Linked DNA regions of Homo sapiens. The protein of the gene in region 1 interacts with the protein of each later gene in a biochemical or structural test. Each region holds a gene or a part of one and is shown in the gene's direction. Other genes may lie near its edges.

The links. The genes of interacting proteins can lie anywhere in the genome.
Region 2: the proteins of CIT (region 1) and PDZRN4 interact in a test that uses a peptide from one of them, tested with the Homo sapiens proteins (one large-scale study listed by IntAct).

What each region holds. Positions count from the first base shown.
Region 1 is NC_000012.12:119,869,614-119,875,064, reverse strand, and holds part of CIT (citron Rho-interacting kinase), read left to right. Parts: intron 1-5,451. UniProt on the Homo sapiens protein: Plays a role in cytokinesis. Required for KIF14 localization to the central spindle and midbody. Putative RHO/RAC effector that binds to the GTP-bound forms of RHO and RAC1. It probably binds p21 with a tighter specificity in vivo.
Region 2 is NC_000012.12:41,568,287-41,573,200, forward strand, and holds part of PDZRN4 (PDZ domain-containing RING finger protein 4), read left to right. Parts: intron 1-4,077; coding exon 4,078-4,914.

The sequences.
Region 1 (5,451 bases):
TCTGCAAGTGTTGGGCTTACAGGCATAAGCCCCTGTACCAGGGCAAGTTTGTCCTTTTATTGAAGAAAGAAAAATAAATGAACAAAGATGCTTTTTAAAACTACAATTTCTGTGGGTATAATCCTATTCATTTTCATTGCAGGGATGTTTATTTTTTAAGATTTTTTTTTTTTTTTTTTGAGACAGAGTCTTCGCTGTCGCCCAGGCTGGAGTGCAGTGGCGCGATCTCGGCTCACTGCAGGCTCTGCCCCCCGGGGTTCACGCCATTCTCCTGCCTCAGCCTCCCACGTAGCTGGGACTACAGGCGCCCGTCACCTCGCCCGGCTAATTTTTTGTATTTTTAGTAGAGACGGGGTTTCACTGTGTTAGTCAGGATGGTATTTTTTAAGATTTTAAAAAAAGTTTTGATGAATACCACACCTGTTTAACCCTCATTCCTCTCAAGATACACATTTCTGTCACCCCAGATGCGTTAAAACTTAATATCATAAGATTACTTCCAAATAGATTTTTAATTCTTTTGTTTCTGATGTATGTGGAACACTGGTGAAGTAGAAATCCTTGTTTGATTTATGTATTCGTAAGTCAGGGGGACAATAGAGACCATGAAGATTTAGAATTGAATCCCAGTCCCAGCACTAGTTAGCTGCATTACTTTGGGTGAGTCAGTTACCTTTTCTGAGTCCATTTGCTATTCTTTAAAATAGGTTGTAGCCTGTAATGCCAGTATTTTCGGAGGCTGAGGCGGGCGGATTACTTGAGGTCACGGGTTCGAGACCAGCCTGGACAACGTGGTGAAACCCTGTCTCTACTAAAAATATAGAAAATTAGCTGGGCATGGTGGTCGCATGTACCTGTAATCCCAGCTACTTGAAAAGCTGAAGCAGGAGAATCATTTGAACCCGGGAGGCGGAGGTTGTCGTGAGCCGAGATGGTGCACTGCACTCCAGCCTGGGCGACAGAGTGGGTAAGACTCCATCTCAAAACAAAACAAAACAAAAGAAAACAAAAAAAATAACATAGAGGTTGTAGTACCTAATCCACAGGGTTGTTGTGAGGATTAGATGAGATATTCGATTTAAAGCACTTAGCACCTTGCCTGGCTCTTAGTAAACTCCTTATAAAAAATGGTAATTATTGTTAATACTCAGCATAGAATAGTATTAGTTATAATATTAATACTAAATTTGTTTCCTTAATAGTAATTATATTTGGGAAGGTAGTTATGTAGGATACCTGTAAGATGATGAATGATGAAGTATTCTTGATAACTTTTTTTTTTTTCCAAAATATTGGTATTGGGTGTTTAAACAGATGAGAGTGGAAACAAATTGAAAGCTTAGGTTTTTCTGTGGGACCATCCCCATCAGCATTTTAAGTCTTGACATATCTTTCACAAATGAATAGTCTGTCTTTAACCTTAGATGGCTGGAGTGCTGCCACGTTTCAGCCCCTTTATCATGCTACTTTAAAATATCTCCAACTTGCTGGGCGTGGTGGCTCACGCCTGTAATCCTAGCAATTTGGGAGGCTGAGGTGGGTGGATTGCTTGAGGTCAGGAGTTCGAGAGCAGCCCGGGCAACATGGTGAGCCCCTCCGTTTCTACTAAAAACACAAAAAATAGCTGACTGTGATGGTGTGTGCCTGTAGTCCCAGCTACTCGGGAGGCTGAGGCAGGAGGATCACTTGAGCCCTAGAGGCAGAGGTTGCAGTGAGCTAAGATTGTGCCACTGCACTTCAGCACTTCAGCCTAGGCGACAGAGCAAGACCCTGTAAATTAAAAAAAAAAAAAAAAAGAAAAGGAAAAAAATTTCCAACTTATTAAGGGCTTATAGTGTGCTGATTATGTAATAGTTATGGCTTCCAATGTGTCTGGCATAGAACTGGCATGTTTCTGAGTATCTCACTTCAGCCTCATGACAGAGGTAAGGACTATTTTTAATTTAAACTTTAAATAGGAGGCAACAGGCCAGGTGTGGTGGCTCACACCTGTAATCCCAGTACTTTGGGAGGCTGAGGCAGGTGGATTGCTTGAGTCCAAGAGTTCAAGACTAGCCTGGGCAAAATGGTGAAACCCCATCTCTACAAAAAATATAAATAATTAGTCAGGCATGGCGGTGTGTGCCTGTAGTCCCAGCTACTCAGGAGGCTGAGGTGGGGGCATCTCTGGGGCCCCGGAGGCAGAGGTTGTAGTGAGTTGAGATTGCAACACTGCACTCCAGCCTGGGCAACAGAACGAGACCCTGTTTCTAAATAAATACATAAATAGGAGGCAACAGATATAGACAGATATGGAGGTAGGTAAGGCCTTGCCCAAGATCATACACGTTGGGTTTTGCAGATGAGGCCAAGATCAGACTCCATCTTTGGTTGGTCTGACTCCAAAGGCTGACCACATAGCCATTGGGCCACAGCACCTGTGCACGTCAGAATTTATTAAGTATATCTTGTATTTAGTCATTATAACAGGAAGACTTATGGGTAAACCCTCAGTTCATCTCTTTTTAATGCTGAGATCCCCCTGCCCAGTAAAGCTATTATTGCAAGTATAGTATATACCTATCATTTGCCTTGAGTTATCAGGTAAGGATGCTGTTTGTTCTTTTCCCATATAGTGCTGTTTGAATGAGGTTGAGATACAGTAGCAATTTTGTTTTCCATTCAGGTGAGTACCTTAGACTGAGTGTCATTTTGTCTTTTTTACTTCTACTCAACAGGATTTCCTGACATGTTCGAGGTCAGTGATTGTCAGACTTTCTGAGCCAGCAAAATTTCCCAAATTGCTGGGTAGACACAGGTTTTCCAACTTTTTATTTTGCCAAGTAAGGATATATAAAAAAAAAATAAAAAGAAAGACCTATTATTTTCTGGCCCTTGTATTTCATAAAGGGCATTTTAAGAAACAACAAGACAGGAAGAACATCATCTCAGAATAAAGGACCATTTTTAAATTTGAATACATTTAGTTTTATAAAAAAGATATCATGTGGTGTTCATTTTTTCTCATTTCACTGCAGGCTGTTGAAAACTTTGTTAAGAACCAGTACTATATTTGGGAACCCCTGCTTTAATTGATCTAAACTCTTGAAGAATAGAAGAAACAAAGCATTTTATTTTTCTGAGTTACTGGCAACTATTACTAAAGTGACAGATATGGTGGCCTTGAATGCAGTGCTTCCCAAACCTGATTGAGGTCTGACTCTCTTGGGGACCAGGGTCTCATTCTGTTGCCCAGGCTGGAGTGTGGCAGCACAATCTTGGCTCACTGCAGCCTTTACTTCTTGGGCTCAAGTGATCCTTCTACCTCAGTCTCACAAGTGGCTAGGACTACAGGACCATGGCACTACACCTGGCTAATTTTTTTTTGTTTGTTTGTAGAGATGGGATCTCGCTGTGTTGCCCTGGCTGGTCTTGAACTCCTGGGCTCAAGTGATCCTCCCACCTTGGCCTCCCAAAGTGCTAGTATTCCAGGTGTGAGCCACCTCTCCCTGCTGGGGAACTTGTTAATAAAACAGATTCTAGGCTACAGTCTGGAAAATTCTAATTCATTTGGTTGTGGGGGAGGGGGGCATAGGACCAGAGAATGTGTTTGTTTGTTTGTTTGTTTTTCTTAAATTCTCCAGTGCTGTTGTGATTCAAATGCAGCCGGTCTGTTTCTGTTATCAAGTGCTGTGTAACAAAGCACTCACAAAGTTTAAAGCAACAATGATTTATTTTTTCTTAGGATTCTGTGGGTTGGCTGGACTCAGCTAGGTAGTTCTGCTTCATCCTGTGATGTCAGCTGGGGTCACTTGTGGGGCTACATTCAGCTGGGATTATGTCTGGGACTGGAACATGTGGGTGCTGACTGCTGGCTGGGGCACCTTAGTGTTTCTCACATGGCCTCTCTTCTCCATGAGGTCTTTCAGTAGTATAGCCCAGGACTCGTAACTTTTTTTTTTTTTTTAAGACAGACTGTCGCCCTGTCGCCCAGGCTGGAGTGCAGTGGCACGATCTCTGCTCACTGCAACCTCCGCCTCCTGGGTTCAAGCAATTCTCCTGCCCCAGCCTCCCGAGTAGCTGGGATTACAGGCACGTGCCTCCACGCCCGGCTAATGTTTGCATTTTTAGTAGAGATGGGGTTTCACCACGTTGGTCAGGCTGGTCTCGAACTTCTGACCTCGCGATCCGCCTGCCTCGGCCTCCCAAAGTGTTGGAATTACAGGTGTGAGCCACTGCACCTGGCTGACTCGTAACTTTTTTTGTAAGTAATAAATATTTTAGGCTTTGTGGGTCCTGTAGTCTCTGTTGCAACCACTCAACTTGGCCATGGTAGCACAAAAGCAGCTAAAGACAATATGTAAATGATGGGTGTAGCTGTGTTCCAGTAAAACTTATAAAAAGTCCGTGGGCTGGATTTGGTCCAAGGGCTACAGATTGCACACCCCTGGTCTAGCCCAAGCATCTGTGCATGGTGGCTGGCTTCCCAAAAGTGGAAGCTGCTAAGCTGCCTTTTTTTTTTTTTTTTTTTTTTTTGAGAGGGAGTCTCACTGTGTTGCCTAGGCTGGAGTGCGGTGGTGTGATCTCGGCTCACTGCAACCTCCATCTCCCGGGTGCAGGCAATTCTCATGCCTCAACCTCCCAGGTAGCTGGGATTACGGGTGCCTACCACCACGCCTGGCTAATTTTTGTATTTTGGTAGAGACAGGGTTTCACCATGTTGGCCAGGCTGGTCTCAAACTCCTGACCTCAAGTGATCCACCCGTCTTGGCCTCCCAAAGTGCTGGGATTACAGATGTGAGCCACCGTGTCTGGCCGCTTGACAAGCTTCTTAAAGGCACTGCCCTGAACTGGCACAGTGTCACTTGTGTCACATTCTTTTGGTTGAAGAGAGTCTCAGAGATGGCACAGATTCAAAGGCAGGAGAAATAGACTCCAGCGCTTAAAGTAAGGAGTAGCATGTGCCTACAGAATTGGAGGAACTGTTGGAGGCCATCTTTGAAGAGAGACCACCACTATCCATGGCTTGGCACGTGGGAATCACTGCTCTATACCAGGGTTGCAGACTCATGTCTTTGGGGGCCAGGCAGTGAGTATAAATGAGTCAAGTGGGCCAGTTGGAAGATGGAGTCAGACCTGCAGTGAACTCCCAAACACATCTGCTACCGGGAGGGGCAGCATTACTCAGCTCCAGCTCAGCGTCATCAGGCAGGAAGGCGAGGCAGTGTTGCCGGATGTGCCAGTGTTTCAAAAGAAGCCAGAGACTCCATTTTTATTTTTTTGTATGGAATCTCCTGATTTTGAAATATTGGCAGATAATTCAAATTATCTTAAACACTACAGGCCAAACAAAACATATCTGTGGGCTAGAGACAGTCTGCCAGTTTGTAACTATTTCTCCAGATCATGAGTAAATTTGGCTTTACGATGGTCACTCAGTTCTTATTACTCTAGGTTGTTCAAATGAATTAA
Region 2 (4,914 bases), about 78 Mb from region 1:
TATTTGAATACTTAGGCTATCACTATAGGATGAAGATGACATGATGTAAGCCATCAGTTTTATTTGCGTACTGGATGGCGTGATTACACCTGTATATTCTGAATAATCGTAGAGATTATCCTTGGTCTTATGGCTGCTGTTGACACATTTCCCATAGTATAACTTGTGCAACATTTCTCATAGCATAGTTTGAGATTATTAACATCATTTTGCCTTGAAGTCACATATTCATTCAACTAAACACTTTGAACTCCTAATATGTTCCAAGTACCCCACTTGAAACTGAGAATAAAAAGAAAAATGAGCAGAACTGCTGTCCTTAATGGATTCATAACTAGTAAAAGATCACAGTGTGATTAGTATATTATTTTTATTGTCTTTTTCCCATTTTACAAAAACAAGTTCAATGTATTCTAGATTTTTTATGTTACACTCATGTCATTTATCTGCCTGATATAATTTTGTTTTCAGTTTACTGATTTGTTTAATTATCTTCCTATTCTCAACATTATTATATGTATTTTATTATATATATATATACGGAATCTTGCTCTGTCGCTCAGGCTGGAGTGCAGTGGCACAATCTCAGCTCACTGGAACCTCCGCCTCCCGGGTTCAATTGATTCTCCTGCCTCAGCCTCCTGAGTAGCTGGGATTACAGATGCCCACCACCATGCCCAGCTAATTTTTGTATTTTTAATAGAGACAGGGTTTCACCATGTTGGTCAGACTGGTCTTAAACTCTGACCTCGTGATCCACCTGCCTCGGCCTCCCAAAGTTCTGGGATTACAGGCATGAGCCACCGTGCCCTGTCTATTCTTATTATTATCATTATTATTATTATTATTTTAAGATAGAGTCTCACTCTGTCGCCCAGGCTGGAGTGCAGTGACACAATCTCAGCTCACTGCAACCTCTGCCTCCTGGGCTCAAGCGATTCTCCTGCCTCAGCCTCCTGAGTAGCTGGGACTATAAGTGCACGCCATCATGCTCAGCTAATTTTTGTATTTTTAGTACAGATGAGGTTTCACCATGTTGATCAGGCTGTTCTCGAACTCCTGACCTCAAGTGGTCCACCAGCCTCAGCTTCTTAAAGTGCTGGGATTACAGGATCCCACCACCACACCCAGCTAATTTTTGTATTTTTAGTAGAGATGGGGTTTCACCATGTTGACCAGGCTGGCCTCGAACTCCTGACCTCAAGTGCTCCACCAGCCTCAGCCTCCTAAAGTGTTGGGATTGCAGGCATGAGCCACTGCACCTGGCCTCAACATTAATTCTTAACACATCTTAAAAGATGATAATTTTTTTGAAAATCTTGACAGGCTTAGAAACTTGCAGCACAAACATTCTATCACTTTACCATGTTGAATAATGAAATATTCAGCTTGCTAACATCCCATAACAGAAATGTGTATGTGTGTGCACATGTCCACATATTAAATAAATAATTAGATTGCACACTATAGCATCAACATAGTCATATGTGATATACTCATGTGCTCATTATGTGGAGTTTGGCCACTCCACAAACAGAATTTCATGCTCACAAGTAATATCGCTACTGTGGTGACTGTCTTTCAATATAGGTAGGGCAGATTAAAATTTTTATGTATAACTTCAACACTGGCCAAAAATAAAGATATTTTTGGTGGCAGCTGCTGGTTACAAGCAAGAAAGTCCTTGCTCCAGGCTTTTTTTTTCTTAGATACAAAATGTGACCTGATACTGAATTGATAGGAGGATGTTGGAATAAGGAAAGCAGGGAGAAATCCTGTCCAGGTAAAGTGACAACGGTGTCAAACGCTGCCTACTCATCAGAGGTAATACAAATGTTAGGTCTCGTGAGGTAACACTAGATGCCTCTGAGGTTAGATTCTCATTGTGTGGAATTTTTTTCTTCACCATGAGACTAAAAAATGGTGAGAAGTACAGAAACCTTTAAAAGTCCTTTGCCCTTATAAACAATAATACTACATTAGAAATGTCTAGGTAGAAACATTGCCTGTCACTATAATAATTCCATAGGGAAATGATAAATGATAGAGTAGCATTGCATTAGAAACTAGGAATTCTAGGTTTGAGAATAGAAAACTATTTTATTTTCACAGTTGTTCATAGACCAATAACAAGGGAAAGGGGATATTCAATTGAAAAAATAAAATACCTACCCATATGTGAACCTACTTTATGGAAAGTTTCATTTTACACAGTATGTTTGGTCTTATGAATGCCGTTACATTGTGCAACATCTCCCATAGCATAATTTGTCATTATTATGTCATCTGCATGTAAAATAAGAAAAAAATTACTAGTCTTCTTGTATTTTTCAGCTCATGACAAGATATTAGAAAAATATAATTATAAATAACACGATATATAAATTCAAATGCCCAGTATCAATAACATTCTTTGAGAGTTATATGGTGTAGTATAAAGACATTGCCATATTAAATACTATTGTCACCTTATAAGTCACAGCCTAGGGATGCAGCAAGCTTCCCATTGTTCGTTACAGTTACTTATTATAATTTTTTAATCAATAAGACATTTAAGATAAATCTCAGTATGTTTTCAACAAATGAAGGAACATGTTCCAGGGAAAGAAAGATTGAGAGTCATAGAAAAGCTGATACATGGTTATGTTCTCTCCTCTTGATATTGTTACTTTTTATCCTGCCACTACTTTTGTGGAACAAAATAACAATTATCTAGAGAGACCTTTTTAGACTTCTTTTAGAATATCTTTTGTCACCCGTTCTATCCTTCTTTAGCACTAGCTGTTGGCTTGATTATATTTAATTGTGTAATTACATCTTCTAGAGGGATGGAGCTATATCTATACCTATCTATCTATCTATATATATATATAGTGAATAAACTTAGGCATAAGGCAGATATAACCTAGAAACTGCCTTATAGATTATCATATGATGACTGATAGAGGTGAAAGTAACTTTACCATATTCACAGAGAAAGAACTACACATGCATCTTATTAGGACAGTTACAGTTAATTGTTTTACATGAAAGCCAAAAATTACCAGAGTCTCTCTCTCTCTCTCTCTCTCTCTCTCTCTCTCTCTCTCTCACACACACACACACACACACACACACACACTACATAAACATACATGCATGCCTATATACATATATGTGACATAAGTGTCAAAATTTTTTTGATATTATGCCCATGTCTGGCAATCAGTGCTGTTCAAATTTTCATGGGACTGAATTTTTATTCTCAATAGACTAAAATTTATCTTTGAAAAAAAATCCCTGGTTAAGAGTAGAAAAATCTTATACAACCCCAATGAGTCCTAAAACATTGTTGTTGCTTTTGAGAAACATGATTTAGAGTGCACTGAGGTCAGAGCACATGTATTCAGGAATATGGCATCCTGGACATATAAGAAATTCTGGCACTGGAAGATGAAGCTTTGCCTCCATCTGTCATTAATAACCTGAATCTGCCACTAATAACCTGAATCCTTTTGGAATTGAGCATCCTCACCTATAGATAGCAATGTCCTAGGCTCCAGTACATAATGTTAACTTAGTCCTAAAACTCTGTGATGTTTGGCTTACCCATTGTCAGCATATTACTAAGCCAGTGAAGTTTCCTCTGTACTTAAGGGGAAAAACATAAGGTGATTGTGGCTTCTGAACATCAGGTCTCCATATTGCTGAAGACTATTTAGACATTCTGTCTTATTCTTTTGCATATTATCACCTCAGAAATTCATACAGTCACTTTGTTTATACACCTTCAACCCCGAGTTTCCCAAGTAAGAGAAAACCTAAAGAATCACTTATTTGAATGCATTCTGTCTTATTTATATCCATGTGAATATCATAGCCATATTCAAGCGGGTTTTGTTTTCTTCATTTCATTGTATAAAAAGCTGCCATGAGCTAATTTCCTTTATTTCTAAAATTGTGATGGACCCTAAATTAGAGCAACTGTCTAGGAGATGCAACTTTGCCAGGAAACATTGGTTTTCAAACAAGATTTTTAATAACAAATGTCTTCCAAAATCATTAATTTTCTTTGTTCTTTCAACATCATTTTCTTAGCCAAAAAAGCAAGAAGAAGAAGAAGGCACAACAGACACTGCAACATCCTCATCCAACAACCATGAGAAGGACAGTGGAGTAGGACGTACAGATGAAAGCTTGCGAAATGATGAGAGCTCAGAGCAGGAGAATGCAGCCGAGGACCCCAATAGCACATCTTTGAAGAGCAAGAGAGACCTGGGGCAGAGCCAAGACACTCTGGGAAGTGTTGAACTTCAGTACAATGAGAGCCTCGTATCTGGTGAATACATTGACTCAGACTGCATTGGCAACCCAGATGAGGACTGTGAAAGATTCAGGCAGCTCTTGGAGCTCAAATGCAAGATTCGAAATCATGGAGAGTATGACCTGTATTACTCAAGCAGCACAATTGAATGCAATCAAGGGGAGCAAGAGGGAGTGGAGCATGAGCTACAGTTGCTTAATGAAGAACTGAGAAACATTGAGCTTGAGTGTCAGAATATCATGCAGGCTCACAGGCTCCAGAAAGTGACAGACCAGTATGGAGACATCTGGACATTGCATGATGGAGGATTCCGGAATTATAACACCAGCATAGATATGCAAAGGGGAAAGCTAGATGACATCATGGAGCATCCAGAAAAGTCTGACAAGGACAGTTCTAGTGCTTACAACACAGCTGAGAGCTGCAGAAGTACTCCGCTCACTGTAGACCGTTCCCCTGACAGTTCCCTTCCAAGGGTGATCAACCTCACCAATAAGAAAAACCTGAGAAGCACAATGGCAGCCACCCAGTCCTCTTCCGGACAGAGCAGTAAAGAGTCGACCTCCACCAAAGCCAAAACCACTGAGCAAGGTTGTAGCGCTGAAAGCAAG